Linked DNA regions of Homo sapiens. The protein of the gene in region 1 interacts with the protein of each later gene in a biochemical or structural test. Each region holds a gene or a part of one and is shown on either strand. Other genes may lie near its edges.

Region 1 (7,338 bases):
AAGCGCCCAAACCCACCCCCACAGCCACCACCAAAGCCAGCTCCAAAGCCACTTCCAGAACCACCACGCCTGGCCAAGCCTGTTGTTTCTTAAACTAAGTTTCACACGAGGTTTACAAAGTCTGTTGAAGAGGCTTATGCTACCACAATGCCGGCCCCACCTCTCCAGACACCCTCGGCCCCTCCCCAGTGGCAGCCCCAGGCCACTCTGGGCCATTTCCTTACCTCCATCCCCATCTGAGGACTGACAGCACAGCCAGGGAGGACGGCCCTCACCAAGCACCTGTGCCTGTGGGAGCACTGGATTCTGTTCACGCCCGGGGGCACCGCCCGGCCCAGGGGCATTTCCTTCCAGACGTTCATCTTTCCTGACTTCTGTTCCCCGCGCTGTTTGGTTTTCTTCTTGCCCTCTGCCACTCTCGTCTCAGGAAGCAGCACAGAGCCAGGGCGCCGGGATCCCTGCTTCTCACCCAGTGCCCACACAGCGCCTGGGGCTGCCTGCCTCCCTGCCCGGCGCCACTCCTGGCTCGGGTCCCGCTCACCCCTGCCCGTGGCTTCGCTTTGCTCTCAGGCTCCGTCATCTCCTGCCTCGGGTCCCGCTCACCCCTGCCCGTGGCTTCGCTTTGCTCTTAGGCTCTGTCACCTCCTGCCTCGGGTCCCGCTCACCCCTGCCCGTGGCTTCGCTTTGCTCTTAGGCTCCGTCATCTCCTGCCTCGGGTCCCGCTCACCCCTGCCCGTGGCTTTGGCTTTGCTCTTAGGCTCCGTCACTGTTGTCTGAGTTCCGTTTTGGGAGGGAGAATTCCGTGCTCGTGCTTAACCCGCTGCCATCTCCAGGGGCCTCCATTCACCCCGACAGCCACTGGGGTGGCTTCCATCCCCATGACCACTGAGACCCGACGTGCAGACCTCAGCGCTCTCACCCACGAACGCAACACCCGTGCCATGCAGCGCGGCACTACTGTCAGACGGGAGCAGGCCCAGCCCTGGGGCCACCAAGCGCGCCCAACGCACAGTCACCTTCCCAGCGCCCGACGCGCGGTCACCTTCCCACAGGCCCTATGCTCGGTCCTCAAGACATGAACTCACCCCATCCACACACCAGCCGGGGCACAGGTGAGGAAACTGAGGCCCGGGGAGGGCGAGAACCCCCTGGCTCACAGCAAACCCCAGCCCCAAGTCCCTTCCATTCTGCTGAGCCTTTTACTGTGGACAGAGACTTCCAGCCAACGATGAAAAGACCCAAATTGACAAAGCACCAATTTTTACACATTCAGGAACAACGTTTAAACCATTAACCGACAGAAACTGATACACATCAATTACTTATTTTTATTTATTTATTTTTTTGAGACAGAGTCTCGTTCTGTTGCCCAGGCTGGAGTGCAGCAGTGCGATCTCGGCTCACTGCAACTGCCTCCACGGCTCAAGTGATCCTCCCACCTCAGCCTCTGGCATAGCTGGGACCACAGGCACGCACCACCATGCACTATGCCTGGCCTAACATTTCTATTTTTTGTAGAGAAGGGGTTTCACTATGTTGCCGAGGCTAGTCTTGAACTCATGAGCTCAAGCGATTCGCCAGCCTCGGCCTTCCAAAGTGCAAGCCACTTTGCCCAGCCACTGTGCCCAGCCACTGTGCCCAGCCATCCAATTACTATTAGGAAGATTTTCTGGTGGGGCACAGGAGCTCACACCTGTAATCTCAACGCTTTGGGAGGCTGAGATGGGAGAATTTCTTGAGCCCATGGGTTCAAGAGCAGCCTAGGTGACCAACATAGTGAGACCCTGCCTCTTAAAAAAAAGAGACCTTATGATCCCATCCAGGGGAATCAAGCATGGGGAGCCCTGCCCCCAGCACCGAACGTCTCCCCTTAGTGCTCACCAGGCCCCCACAAGGACAGAAGCACATTCCTGCTCTTCTAGGTGGGCAAGGCTGGGCCGCTGGGCCCAGGAAACTCAGAACGATGAGCTGTGACCAGCCATCCCCGAGGCTGCTGCTCATGAACCGGCAGCCCACACACCCCTCCTCTACAAAGGACTGCAAAGTGCCAAGAGGCACCACAGGCCAGCACAGAGCTTGGGTGTCCAGCTCTGAACCAGACCCAGTAACCACAGCAGCTTCCCCAGCAAACAGGGTAGGGAAGAGCCCCCAGCCCACTGATGCTCACCTGATCTGTGGAAAATGGCTGAGAAGCTCCCAGAGGGTCTGGCCTGAACAGAAAGAGTCCTGCAACCTCGAGCCATCGTCCAGCTGCAAAGCGATGCGAACCTGGAGGGTATAAGACATGAGAAACTTCCTTAGGAAGAAAAGCAACTATTCCTTCTAAATCCCAGACTGATTCTCCAGACACAGAGAGGGTGACTGCCCCGCCCTGGCCTCCAGGGAGAGGCTGACCCCCACGGAGAAGGCTACCCTCCTATTCACTCTGGAGTGAGGGCCTTGGAGGCTCCCCGGCAGGGCTGCACCAGCATGCGTGTGTGCATGTGAGTGTGCAGGTATGTGCAGGTGTGCGTGCGTGTGTGCATATGTGTGTGTGGGTGTGTGCGGGGGTGTGCAGTTGTGTGCAGGTATGTGTGTGGATGTGTGCATGTTGGTGTGTGGGTGTGTGCAGGTGTGCGCATGTGCGTGCAGATGTGCGTGTGTGTGCATGTTTACATGCAGGTGTGTGCGGGTATGTGCGCAGATGTGTAGGTGTGTGTGTACAGGTGTGTGCGTGGGTGTGTGTGGGGGGGAGGTGTGTGCATGTTGGTGTGGGCGGTGTGTGCAGGTGTGTGGGGGGGTGTGCACGCAGGTGTGTGGGTGTGTGCAGGTGTGTGGGGTGTGTGCGGGTGTGTGCGGGTGTGGGGGTGTGTGCACGTTGCTGTAGGGGTGTGTGTGGGTGTGTGTGGGGGGTGTGTGTGCGGGGGTGTGCAGGTGTGTGTGGGGTGTGTGCAGGGGTGTGTGGGGGTGTGTACGGGTGTGCGGGTATGTGGGTGTGTGGGGGTGTGTGTGGGTGTGTGTGGGTACATGCAGGCGCCACAGGAGTGAACTGTGTTGGAGACAGTCCTCGTGTCCCAGTGGGGGCTTCAAAAGATTGCAGCTCCACCGAACCTGACTGCAGCCTCAGGACAGACACTGAGCTAAGCTGCTCCCAGATTCCTGACCCTCAGAAGCCACATGAGATGGTAAATGTTTGCTGCTCTTTTTTTTTTTTTTGAGACAAAGTCTCACTCTGTCGCCCAGGCTGGAGTGCAGTGGCAGCACAATCTCGGCTCACTGCAAGCTCCGCCTCCCGGGTTCACGCCATTCTCCTGCCTCAGCCTGCTGAGTAGCTGGGACTACAGGCATCCGCCACCACCCACGGCTAATTTTTGTATTTTTAGTAGAGACGGGGTTTCATTATGTTGGCCGGCTGGTCCCAAACTCCTGACCTCAGGTGATCTGCCCGCCTCGGCCTCCTAAAGTGCTGGGATTACAGGCTGCCCTTGCGGCATCCATGCAGCGCTTTCGGCTCTAACATTCTGGGCAATTCTATGAGCAGGTGGTCAGGCTGGTGGGTGAATGCTGCTGACACCCTGAGCCAGGGAAGGCACAACTGACCCCAGAAAGAAAGAAAAACTTCCACATGAAGAATGACGTGGGCGGGGCGCAGAGGCTCACGCCTGCAATCCTTTGGGAGGACTTTGGGAGGCCGAGGCGGGTAGATCATGAGGTCAGCAGTTCCAGACCAGCAGGCCAACATGGTGAAACCCTGCCTCTACTAAAATACAAAAATTAGCCGGGTGTGGTGGCGGGCACCTGTAGTCCTAGCTACTCGGGAGGCTGAGGCAGAATGGTGTGAACCCGGGAGGCGGAGCTTGAAGTGAGCCGAGACTGCGCCACTGAGCTCCAGCCTGGGCGACAGAGCGAGACTCCAGCTCAAAAAAAAAAAAACATGAGATGCTCATTTTCAGTTGCCAGTTATCAAAAAACAGGAAGCTGTTTGGGCCCAACCCAGGGAAGGCAGAACTGGTGCTAAGACTCATGTCCCTCCTTCCCCAGCACCCCCCACTGTCCCGTCCCCCGTCCCTGGCCAGCTGAACGATCCTGTGCCCCACACAGTCAGCCTCCCCCAGAGCACGACCCACCATGTTCTCAGGCCCCTCACGGCTCCGGGAAGCGGGCACCATCTCCAGCTTGGCATTGTTGGGCAGGTTGGCAAATCTCCACTGGAGAGAAAGGTCGAGCACGCTCCTCTGAAACCTGCAAGACAGACCAGAGCACACTTGCTGCCCTGCAGAGCCTGACACGCCCTGCCATCCACGCCCCGCCATCCCCGTCCCACCATCCACGCCCCGCCATCCACGCCCCGCCATCCACGTCCTGTGGCAGCTCCCCAACAGCGGGACGTCATGACCTGCAGAGGCACAAGGCGGGTCCCCGATCATATGGGGCCTCCTGCAAGCAGAAGGGAGCAGGAAAAAGGGAGATGTGGGCCTCGGTGCACGCCGAGGGGGCTGCTCCTTCAGAGTCTGGGGTGCTGACAGCCCCAGTGCAGACGCTCGGAAAACACAGAGAGAACGACTGGGGCGTGAACACTGCTGCACTCGCGGAAGCTGGAGTGTCACAGACCCCGGCCGTCACGGCTGGAGCCACCACAGAAAACCTGACTGCCCGGGCGCAGTGGCTCACGCCTGTAATCCCAGCACTTTCGGAGGCCGAGGCAGGCGGATCACCTGAGGTTCAGGAGTTTGAGACAAGCCTGACCAACATGGTGAAACCCCGTCTCTACTGAAAATACAAAAATATCCCATCTCTACTAAAAATACAAAAAAATAAGCTGGGCATGGTGGCTCAGGCCTGTAGTCCCAGCTACTCGGGAGGCTGAGGCAGGAGAATCGCTTGAACCCGGGAGGCAGAGGCTGCAGTGAGGCAAGATCATGCCACTGCACTCCTGCCTGGGCAACAAGAGCAAAACTCTGTGAAAGAAAAAAGGAAAGGAAAGGAAAGAAAAGAAAAGAAAAGAGAAAGGAAGAAAAAGAAAAAGAGAAGAAGAAAGAAAGAAAGAAAGAGAAAACAAGAAAGAAAAAGAAAGAAAAGAAAAGAAAAATCTGAATATACTCAAAGTGGTTGGCCTCACTTTGGAAATGCAAGCTGCTGTCGGAGACAACTAGTGAAGAGAGTTCAGACAGCCCAGGGGCATCTGGAAGAATTAAGAGAGAACAAACTTTGCTATATCAACACTGGCCAGAAAAGTGAGTCTGGAAATTGCCACATGAAATGTCTACGTCAAGACAGGATAGCAGATCGGGGGATCCCGAGGGCAGGCAGGCTGGGAACCTTGGAGCGGAGGGCACTGTTCACGCCTGGGGCTGCATTCCTCTGCACCGGCTGCACTTTGTAAGCAAGTGGTACCATTAGCAGAGGAAAAGGGCACCTGAAAACATGGCTATGGTATTGCAGGACCTGCCTCAAAATCGCACTCACTGGTTCCCACCAGACACCACCACACAGACCACGGGCAGGTGAACACTGAGAAGTAACAATGCGCTGGGCGCGGTGGCTCATGCCTGTAATCCCAGCAATTTGGGAGGCCCAGACGGGCAGATCACTTGAGGTCAGGAGTTTGAGAGCAGTCTGGCCAATGTGGTGAAACTCCGTCTCTACTAAAAATACAAAAATTAGCCAGGCATGGTGGCACAGGCCTGTAGTCCCAGCTACTCGGGAGGCTGAAGTGGGAGGAGTGCTTCAACCCGGGAGGCGGAGGTTGCAGTGTGCCAAGATCGCGCCATTGCACTCCAGCCTGGGCGACAGAGCGAGACTCCGTCTCAAAAAAAAGAAAGAAAAATGAGGCCAGGTGCAGTGGCTCACGCCTATCATCCCAGCACTTTGGGAGGCCAAGACGGGCGGATCACTTGAGGTCAGGAGTTTGAGACCAGCCTGGTCCACATGGTGAAACCCCGTCACTACTAAAAATACAAAAATTAGCCAGGCGTGGCACGTGCCTGTAATTCCAGCTACTCAAGACGCTGAGGCACAATAATCGCTTGAACCCGGGAGGCAGAGGTTGCGGTGAGCTGAGATCATGCCACTGCCCTCCAGCCTAGGTGACAGAGCAAGACTCTGTTTCAGAAAAATGGCCAGGCACAGTGACTCATGCCTGTAATCCCAACACTTTGGAAGACCAAGGCGGGCAGATCACCTGAGGTCAGGACTTGAAGACCAGCATGACCAACATGGTGAAACCCCGTCCCTACTAAAAATACAAAAATTAGCTGGGCATGATGGCGCACGCCTGTAATCCCAGCTACTCGGGAGGCTGAGGCAGAAGAATCACTTGAACCTGGGAGACAGAGGTTGCAGTGAGCCGAGATAGCGCCACTGTACTACAGCCTGTGTGACAGAGCGAGACTCCACCTCAAAAAATAATAAAATAAAAAAGAAATAAAAATGAAACCCTAAGCCCCCCCCAACCAACTGAACCAGCCTCCTCTTGGCCCAGGGGACCCCAGAAACCTTGAAAGCTGAGTTCCTGGCCATGGCTGGGTGGGAGATCAGACACATCTGCAGGCTCTCTTCCCTAAGGGATAAACAGAAAGCAGCCCTTTCCAAAGACCCCTGGGCTGGTATCTGACATCAGCCAACCTCCCGCCAGGCCCTTCTCTCTTGCGGTTTCTTCAAAACAACCCACAGGTATTTCCTGATAAGAAACCACCAACCATGGAGTGGTTCTGGCACAGTCAGGGTTTTCGTGGCACAGTCTTCATGTCCTCTGATTTGCCATTTATTTATTTATTTACTTATTTACTTTTTTTGTAGAGACAGGGTCTCACTATGTTCCCCAGGCTGATCTCGAATTCCTGGGCTCAGGCAATCCTCCGCCTCGGGCACCCAAAGTGCTAGGATTACAGGCATGAGCCACTTCACCCAGCCTGCTTCACCTCTGACTTCAGAGGCCAAAAATTCCACCCTCAGGTCATGCTGGCACTGCCATTTTTTGCACATAGGACCCGTGAAGAGGCAGGAAGCTCAACTGTGTGCACAGTTCTCCTTTCATGAATACTCATGATCCTCCTACAGCGTATTAAGTACGTCTGTATCAGCCACCCCATTCGGTGTAAATCCCTGTCTTATTCTTCCCTCTCTTGAAGTGTCTGTTTCCAGCTTCTGGCTGGAGGCTACACTTCCCAGCCTGTTAGAATGGCCACCCTGCAAGCTGCAACCGGTTATGAGAAATAAAGCCCTCCTTTCCAAACATATGAACCGCATTCTTCAGTTGACAAGAGAGACTGGAGAAGGATGGTGTGAAGGTCTGGGGCAGAAAGCCCAAGACCACCTGGCATTCAGAGCACAGGTCCTGGGATTCTCACGTGGTCCAGA
Region 2 (7,182 bases), on another chromosome or scaffold:
AAAAAAAAAAAAAAAAAAGGTCTCTGATTAGGATGGTCTTTCTTTGGAAGTTACTACAGTGTATTTAGACATGTTTTGTTTTGATTTGTGAAAGGCTTTTCAGGGAGCAGAATCTCATTAATCATAATTAAATAGTACACCTTCATTTAGCTGAAGTACCCATCATGCCCCAGGCACTATGGTTGGTGCTAGAGACACAGAAATAAATACACACTCCCTGCAGAAAGCTTACAATTTAATGGGGGAAGATAGATAAACCAATAGTTGATACAGTCTGACAAATGCCATGGTAGAAGTATCGATCACAAATTGTGATAAAGGTTTATCTTATACTGTGAATTGTGGTTAAACTAGTCTTTTTCTCCCCCAGAGTCTTTCTTTAGTTCATGTGGTAGTTTACATAAACTAAGTGAAGAGCCCCTGATTCCTCCTCCTCTTCCTCCTCGAAAAAAGTTTGATCATGATGCTTCAAATTCCAAGGTAATCAACAGGACTTTACTCCAACTTATTCAAAGTTGTGAATCTTCAAAATAATGCCTAGTGTTATAAAGAGTCTGTGAATTATACTTTGGCTACCATTTATGGTTTTTCAGCATTTGGGTTGTTATATTTGAAAAATACTTTTAGTTGTTTAATCCTTATAAAAACCTTTTCTAAATAAGAGGCTGGGCCGGGCGCAGTGGCTCATGCCAGGCGGGTAGATCACCTGAGATCAGGAGTTCGAGACCAGCCTGGTCAACATGATGAAACCCCATCTCTACTAAAAATACAAAAAATTAGCTGGGTGTGGTGGCGGGTGCCTGTGATTCCAGCTACTGGGGAGGCTGAGGCAGGAGAAGCGCTTGAACCTGGGAGTTGGAGGTTGCAGTGAGCCAGGATCGTGCCACTGCACTCCAGTCTGGGCAACAATTGCAAAACTCTTGTCTCAAAAAAAAAAAAAAAAAAAAAAAAGGCTGGTTGGGAGGCTGAGGCAGGCAGATCATCTGAAGTCAGGAGTTCAAGACCAGCCTGGCCAATATGGTGAAACCCTGTCTCTACTAAAAATACAAAAATTAGCCGGGCATGGTGGCGGGCACCTGTAATCCCAGCTACTCAAGAGGCTAAGGCAGGAGAATCACTTGAACCTGGGAGGTGAAGGTAGGTTGCAGTGAGCCAAGATCGCACCATTGCACTCCAGCCTGGGCGACAGAGCAAGACTCTGTCTCAAAAACTAAAAATAAAAATAAAAAAATAAAAAAGAGGCTGGAAGTACATTTTCTTTCTGGTACAGGTGGAAAAAAACTTCAGTAGTATTCCAAGTATTCTTCAAACTTTCAACTAATGCTTCTCAAAATTTTAAGGGTGCATCAGAATTACCTGAAAGGCTTGGTAAAATCAGACTGTGGAGCCACACCTCCAGAGTTTCTGATTCAGTAGTCTAGGATGGGGCCCAAGAATTTGCTTTTCTAACAAGTTCCCTACTGATGCTGATGTTGTTGGTCTCTGGATCACACTTTGAGATCTACTGCTCTAAGCCTCACTGGAGAAAGTAGCAGTAGATGCCCAGTAAGCAGAAGCTAGACATTAAAGTCCTCTAGACATCATGTCCTTTCATGTCTATAAAGCAATAAATTATTGTCACTTACCTACTATTATAATTAAAATACATAAATTTCTGAAATGTATACACAAAGCAAGATAAAGAGTTAGGACCTAAGACTTAAATTAAAACATCTCATATATAAAAATATTAAACCCAGCCCTGAATTAATCTAGGAGTACTCATAATCTGATAATTAACCCAGATTAGTTTATTTTGAGCCTCTGAATTTAACTTGACAAGTAAGAATTTTTCAGACTTAAAAATTTTTTTTTTTAATTTTTCAGAATAGAGGTATAATTTAATTACTTTTTTTTTTGAGGGAAATATGAAATCTGATGATGATCCTCCTGCTATTCCACCGAGACAGCCTCCTCCTCCAAAGGTAAAACCCAGAGTTCCTGTTCCTACTGGTGCATTTGATGGGCCTCTGCATAGTCCACCTCCGCCACCACCAAGAGATCCTCTTCCTGATACCCCTCCACCAGTTCCCCTTCGGCCTCCAGAACACTTTATAAACTGTCCATTTAATCTTCAGCCACCTCCACTGGGGCATCTTCACAGAGATTCAGACTGGCTCAGAGACATTAGTACGTGTCCAAATTCGCCAAGCACTCCTCCTAGCACACCCTCTCCAAGGGTACCGCGTCGATGCTATGTGCTCAGTTCTAGTCAGAATAATCTTGCTCATCCTCCAGCTCCCCCTGTTCCACCAAGGCAGAATTCAAGCCCTCATCTGCCAAAACTGCCACCAAAGACTTACAAACGGGAGCTTTCGCACCCCCCATTGTACAGACTGCCTTTGCTAGAAAATGCAGAAACTCCCCAATGACCTTAGCCATATGTAGTCATTGACACTGGAATGGTATTTGTAAAGTTTTTTTTTTAATTTATTCAAAAAAAGACATAGTATTTTAGTACTTTTTACAAATAATGCTCTTACAAAAATGCTACTGATCAAATAAGCTTTTAAGAATTGGAAAAATAAAAATACAAAAGTCCTTCACCATTATCCTCAGGTGATCAGTAGCATTGCCTTGTCTTGGATCCTCAGTGCTGCCAAAAGGCCAGTATAAAGAATTTATATTTGCACTGTAAACTCTGCAAAAATATGGTTTAAAGTGACATGATTGCACTGAAAAGGGATAGTGCTTTTGTGAAATTTTTCAAATTTGAGTAATAGATGCCTTTTTAAGGCAGTGAATTTACACAAATATGGGAGGGGTATATGGTGTTACTGATTTTTAAACCTCTTTGACCATCTTCTAGTTTTTACTTCTAGTTTTTACATCTAGGAGAATTGTGAATAACACCAACTGTTCTTAAACTCTTTAATGCCATGTCTTAAATGCCGGTATTTGCTGCTGAAGACAAAAATGAAAAGTAGGATGAAAATAATAGAATGGCACTGTAAGTGTTTATTATTTTGTCAAAATGTAAACAAAGACTACATAACCCAATGATGGAGGGAAAAAGGGCATGTATCTCATTCAGATGTGCCTTTTGTTTTTGCAGACTATGACGTCTTTAGCTAATGAATTGCCTATTGTTATGGAAAACAGTTAATATGCCATGTATGTACAGTTTTGTTTATATTGTATATTTAAAGATACTGCTAATAACCTATATAAATTTAAGTGACTTGAGGCCTATAATACAATCTGCTACTTTACTAATTCATAAATTCAAAAAAAATTCTATGGCATAGGAACCAACTGCCTTGCCTTCAAGACCTAGTAACTTTCTCTATAAATCTCGTGTTAACTGAAATTTTTTTTAAATATATTTTTTAGATTGGTAATATTTAAACCAGCAAATACTTAAAGCTTTATTAAACATTTTAATCAGATAAGTGAGTAAAGCTTTTATTTGCCATTTGGATGCCTTCGTTCAAAGTGATAGAGTGTTTTGCTGATAGTGCTGTAGCAGCAGTTGTAAAGTAGCCAAAAGCCACGTTGTTTATTTACTGGTTTGTGGCCTTTTACTGTGCTTTGTATCAGAGTTCTTAACAAGATTAATAAATCACCCCAGTCTTAATTTTTAAAAGACTTTTAAAATATGTGTTTTCATTATAAGGAACAAAGGGGGAGATTGTTGAGTCCTATAGACACACACACACACACACACAATTTTTTCTTCACTGTTAAATGTGAGCTGCAGGCTTCTAGCAACCACTTTTATGAATTCATACAAAAAACTAGGAGCATACTAGGAACTTGAAAAGGAAGATTGTAAGATTATAGCCATCTTTGGTAGGATCTTGGAAGCTGATTGCATTTAAGCCTTGTAACTACTATGTAAATCAAGTGTCCAACTTGGTAAACTCTGAGGTTGGCTTTGTTTTTTAAAGAGCAGATTATAATAGTTTTGTCTGGGAAAGTGATTTAAACGGCCTCTTCGTTAAGCCAAACGTGTGATTTAGGGTAGAGGGAGGCTGCCAAGCGCGTCGGGTAAGCAGGGGCCCCACGCTCGGCCCCGCCCAGGTAACGCTGCCTTCCGGGCTTTGTTAACTCGCGCGCGCTGCGTCGCCAACTCAGCGGCGGGCAGGGGGCGGAGCCGCAGGGCGGGGCGGTGCGCGTTGATGTGACGTCCCTGCGCGCGCCGCTTTCTGTTGCCGGGCGCAATGGCGGATACGCTGGAGTCCTCGCTGGAGGACCCACTGCGGAGCTTTGTGCGAGTTTTGGAGAAGCGGGATGGTACAGTGCTACGACTACAGCAGTATAGCTCCGGTGGCGTGGGTTGCGTTGTGTGGGACGCTGCCATTGTCCTTTCTAAATACCTGGAAACGCCCGAGTTTTCTGGCGACGGGGCCCACGCGCTGAGCCGGCGGTCGGTGCTGGAGCTGGGTTCGGGCACCGGGGCCGTGGGGCTCATGGCTGCTACCCTCGGGTAAGAGCTGGCGGGCGGGCGGGATGTGGGGGCGCCTTCTTGCTGGGGAAATCCGGATTACAGGCTTTCCCCCCTGTGCCTACACCTCAGTCGACGTTATTTTATAGGGCTGATGTTGTAGTCACCGATCTTGAGGAATTGCAAGACTTGCTGAAGATGAATATTAATATGAACAAGCATCTTGTCACTGGTTCTGTTCAAGCCAAGGTACTGAAATGGTTTGTATGGCCTTTCAGCTTGTTTTAAGATATTGATTTGTAGTTTGTTTTGAATTGCGTTTCATTAAAAGGATGGAAGGGGACTTTCCGGTTCTTTATAAAACAAGAGTATTTTGAATTATTAAAACAATTGAAATATTTGTTTGGCATTTTTAAGGGGGGAAGAAATAGAAGGCTTTCCTTCTCCACCCGACTTCATACTGATGGCCGACTGCATATACTATGAAGAGGTAAGTATCCAGTGAGCGAAGTCTCTTCACTTAGAAGATGAACCTTATTCCATGAATTCTAAAGCACACGTTTCTTCACATTTTAACATCTTTGAATCCGGGATTTGCCTTATAGTTGATGCAGTAAAGAGAAGATAAAAGTCACCAGGGACCATATGTATATACGCTCATCATTATCATACCGACCTGGTGAAGCATGTTGAGAAAAGTGTTATATGCATTTTACTAGAGGCTTCTGTAAAAATTTTAAAGGATTTTGCCAATTGGATGTTATGAAAAGCCAAAATCCTCTCTTTTTCCCTTGGTTGTTCCCACGGAACATGTTAACCATGACATTGAGAATTAAGTTATAAATAATTCATTGTTCTTTTCTTTAAATACCAGTTTGGGCCGGGCGCGGTGGCTCACGCCTGTAATCCCAACACTTGGGAGGTCAAGGCAGGTGGCTCACCTGAGGTCGGGAGTTCGAGACCAGCCTGACCTACATGGCAAAACCCTGTCTCTACTAAAAATACAAAATTAGCCAGGCGTGGTGGTGCATGTCTGTAATCCTAGCTATTTGGGAGTCTGAGGCAGGAGAATCGCTTGAACCTGGGAGGCGGAGGTTGCAGTGAGCCGAAATCATGCCATTGCATTCCAGCCTGGGCAACAAGAGCAAAACTCTGTCTCAAAAAAAAAAAAAAAAAAAAAAAACATCAGTTTGTATAGTGTTGTGGGCATCGATTATTTTAAAAATAATTAGCATTGAACCAAGTTAGGGTCAGATTTAACTTTTGTAGGGAAATCGTTGATTATTTAAATCCCAAATTAGATTAAATAAAATTAAACTTTTAAGAGTAAGGTTGATTCCATTTGTTTCCCATGAGAACTCCAAAATGCAGTCATCTGAATCCTTTTTCTGGAAACCAAAATCAGTACATGGTTTAGTTAACAGGAGCTTACCCAATCATTAGTTACAGAGGGGTTTTTGTTTGTTTGTTTTTGTTTTAAGATAGGGGTCTTGCTCTGTCACACATGTTGTAGTGCAGTGGAGTGATCATAGCTCACTGTAACCTCGAGCTCCTGAGGCTCAAGTAATCCTCCCATTCAGCCTCCTCAATAGCTGGGACTATAGGTGTGCACCAGCATGCTGGCTAATTTTTAAATTTTTTGTAAGGTGTTGCGGGGGGTGGTTTGTCTCTCGCTGTATTCTCCAGGCTGGTCTTCAACTCCTGCTTTCAAGCGATCTTTCCACCTCTGCCTTCCAAAGTGTTGATATTACAGGTGTGAGCCACTGCACCTAGCCTAGAGCTTTAATTACATGTGCTTTGTTGGATTGATTCAAAGATGGATAAATTGTAGGGGAGCTATAAATACCCCTGTACCTCCTCAACCTACTTTTAGAGTAGAAAAATTTTTAAATCAAAAACAAAAAATATATTCTTTTTTAAATAGTCTTTGGAGCCATTGCTGAAAACTCTAAAAGATATCAGCGGATTTGAAACTTGTATTATATGTTGTTATGAACAACGAACAATGGGGAAAAATCCAGAAATTGAGAAAAAATATTTTGAGGTAAGTATTAAGTACTCTATTATCTTTGTAGTGATTTCCCTTCAGGGGGGCTGTATGTGACTCTTCAAGTATATTATGGTAATTTTGGGTGGGGAAAACATGCTGTTTGTGTGAAGCTGAGGAAAGGATCTTCACAGCCCATGATTCTACGAAGCTCCCCTTTTTCATCTTTTCTGATACTTTATTTCATTTCTAATTAGTTGATCTATGGCTACAGAAGAATGTTAATACGGGTGCCACTCCTTTTTAAGAACAGTTTTCAGTGTTTATTAAACATGATGCTGCCTTTGGGGAACATCTCAATGATGTATGTATTACCTTTGGAGAATACGTGATAGAAATGTGCAGGTGATAAGTTGTTTTTGTTTTGAGACAGGGTTTCACCCTGTAGCCCATGCCGGAGTGCAGTGGCACAGTCAGGGCTCACTGCATCCTCAACCTCCTGGGCTCAAGTGATCCTCCTGCCTCAGTGTCACCCCCCCCCCCCCCCGCCCCCAAGTAAGTGGGACTATAGGCATGTACCACCACACCCGGCTAACTTTTTGTATTTTTTTGTAGAGATGGGGTTTTCCCATGTTGCCAAGTGATAAGTTTTTACTTCTGTGTTTTTCTCTACATATTTATGAAACCTCCAACCTAGATACCTGTCTATTTTTAGGGTCTTTTTTTTTGTTTTTTAAACTTTTTGTCTGAAATAGTTAGAAAAGACTTA

Evidence for each region.
Region 2: the proteins of ASPSCR1 (region 1) and VCPKMT form a complex in vitro, tested with the Homo sapiens proteins (one study listed by BioGRID).

Annotation. Positions count from the first base shown.
Region 1 is NC_000017.11:81,980,437-81,987,774, reverse strand, and holds part of ASPSCR1 (tether containing UBX domain for GLUT4), read right to left. Parts: intron 4,222-7,338; coding exon 4,107-4,221; intron 2,269-4,106; coding exon 2,168-2,268; intron 1-2,167. UniProt on the Homo sapiens protein: Tethering protein that sequesters GLUT4-containing vesicles in the cytoplasm in the absence of insulin. Modulates the amount of GLUT4 that is available at the cell surface. Enhances VCP methylation catalyzed by VCPKMT.
Region 2 is NC_000014.9:50,113,573-50,120,754, reverse strand, and holds the start of VCPKMT (protein N-lysine methyltransferase METTL21D), read left to right. Parts: upstream 1-4,182; 5' UTR 4,183-4,202; coding exon 4,203-4,468; exon of another isoform or gene 4,469-4,575; coding exon 4,576-4,686; intron 4,687-4,843; coding exon 4,844-4,916; intron 4,917-6,350; coding exon 6,351-6,470; intron 6,471-7,182. Other genes in the region: SOS2 (son of sevenless homolog 2), read left to right, coding at 371-480, 1,902-2,411. UniProt on the Homo sapiens protein: Protein N-lysine methyltransferase that specifically trimethylates 'Lys-315' of VCP/p97; this modification may decrease VCP ATPase activity.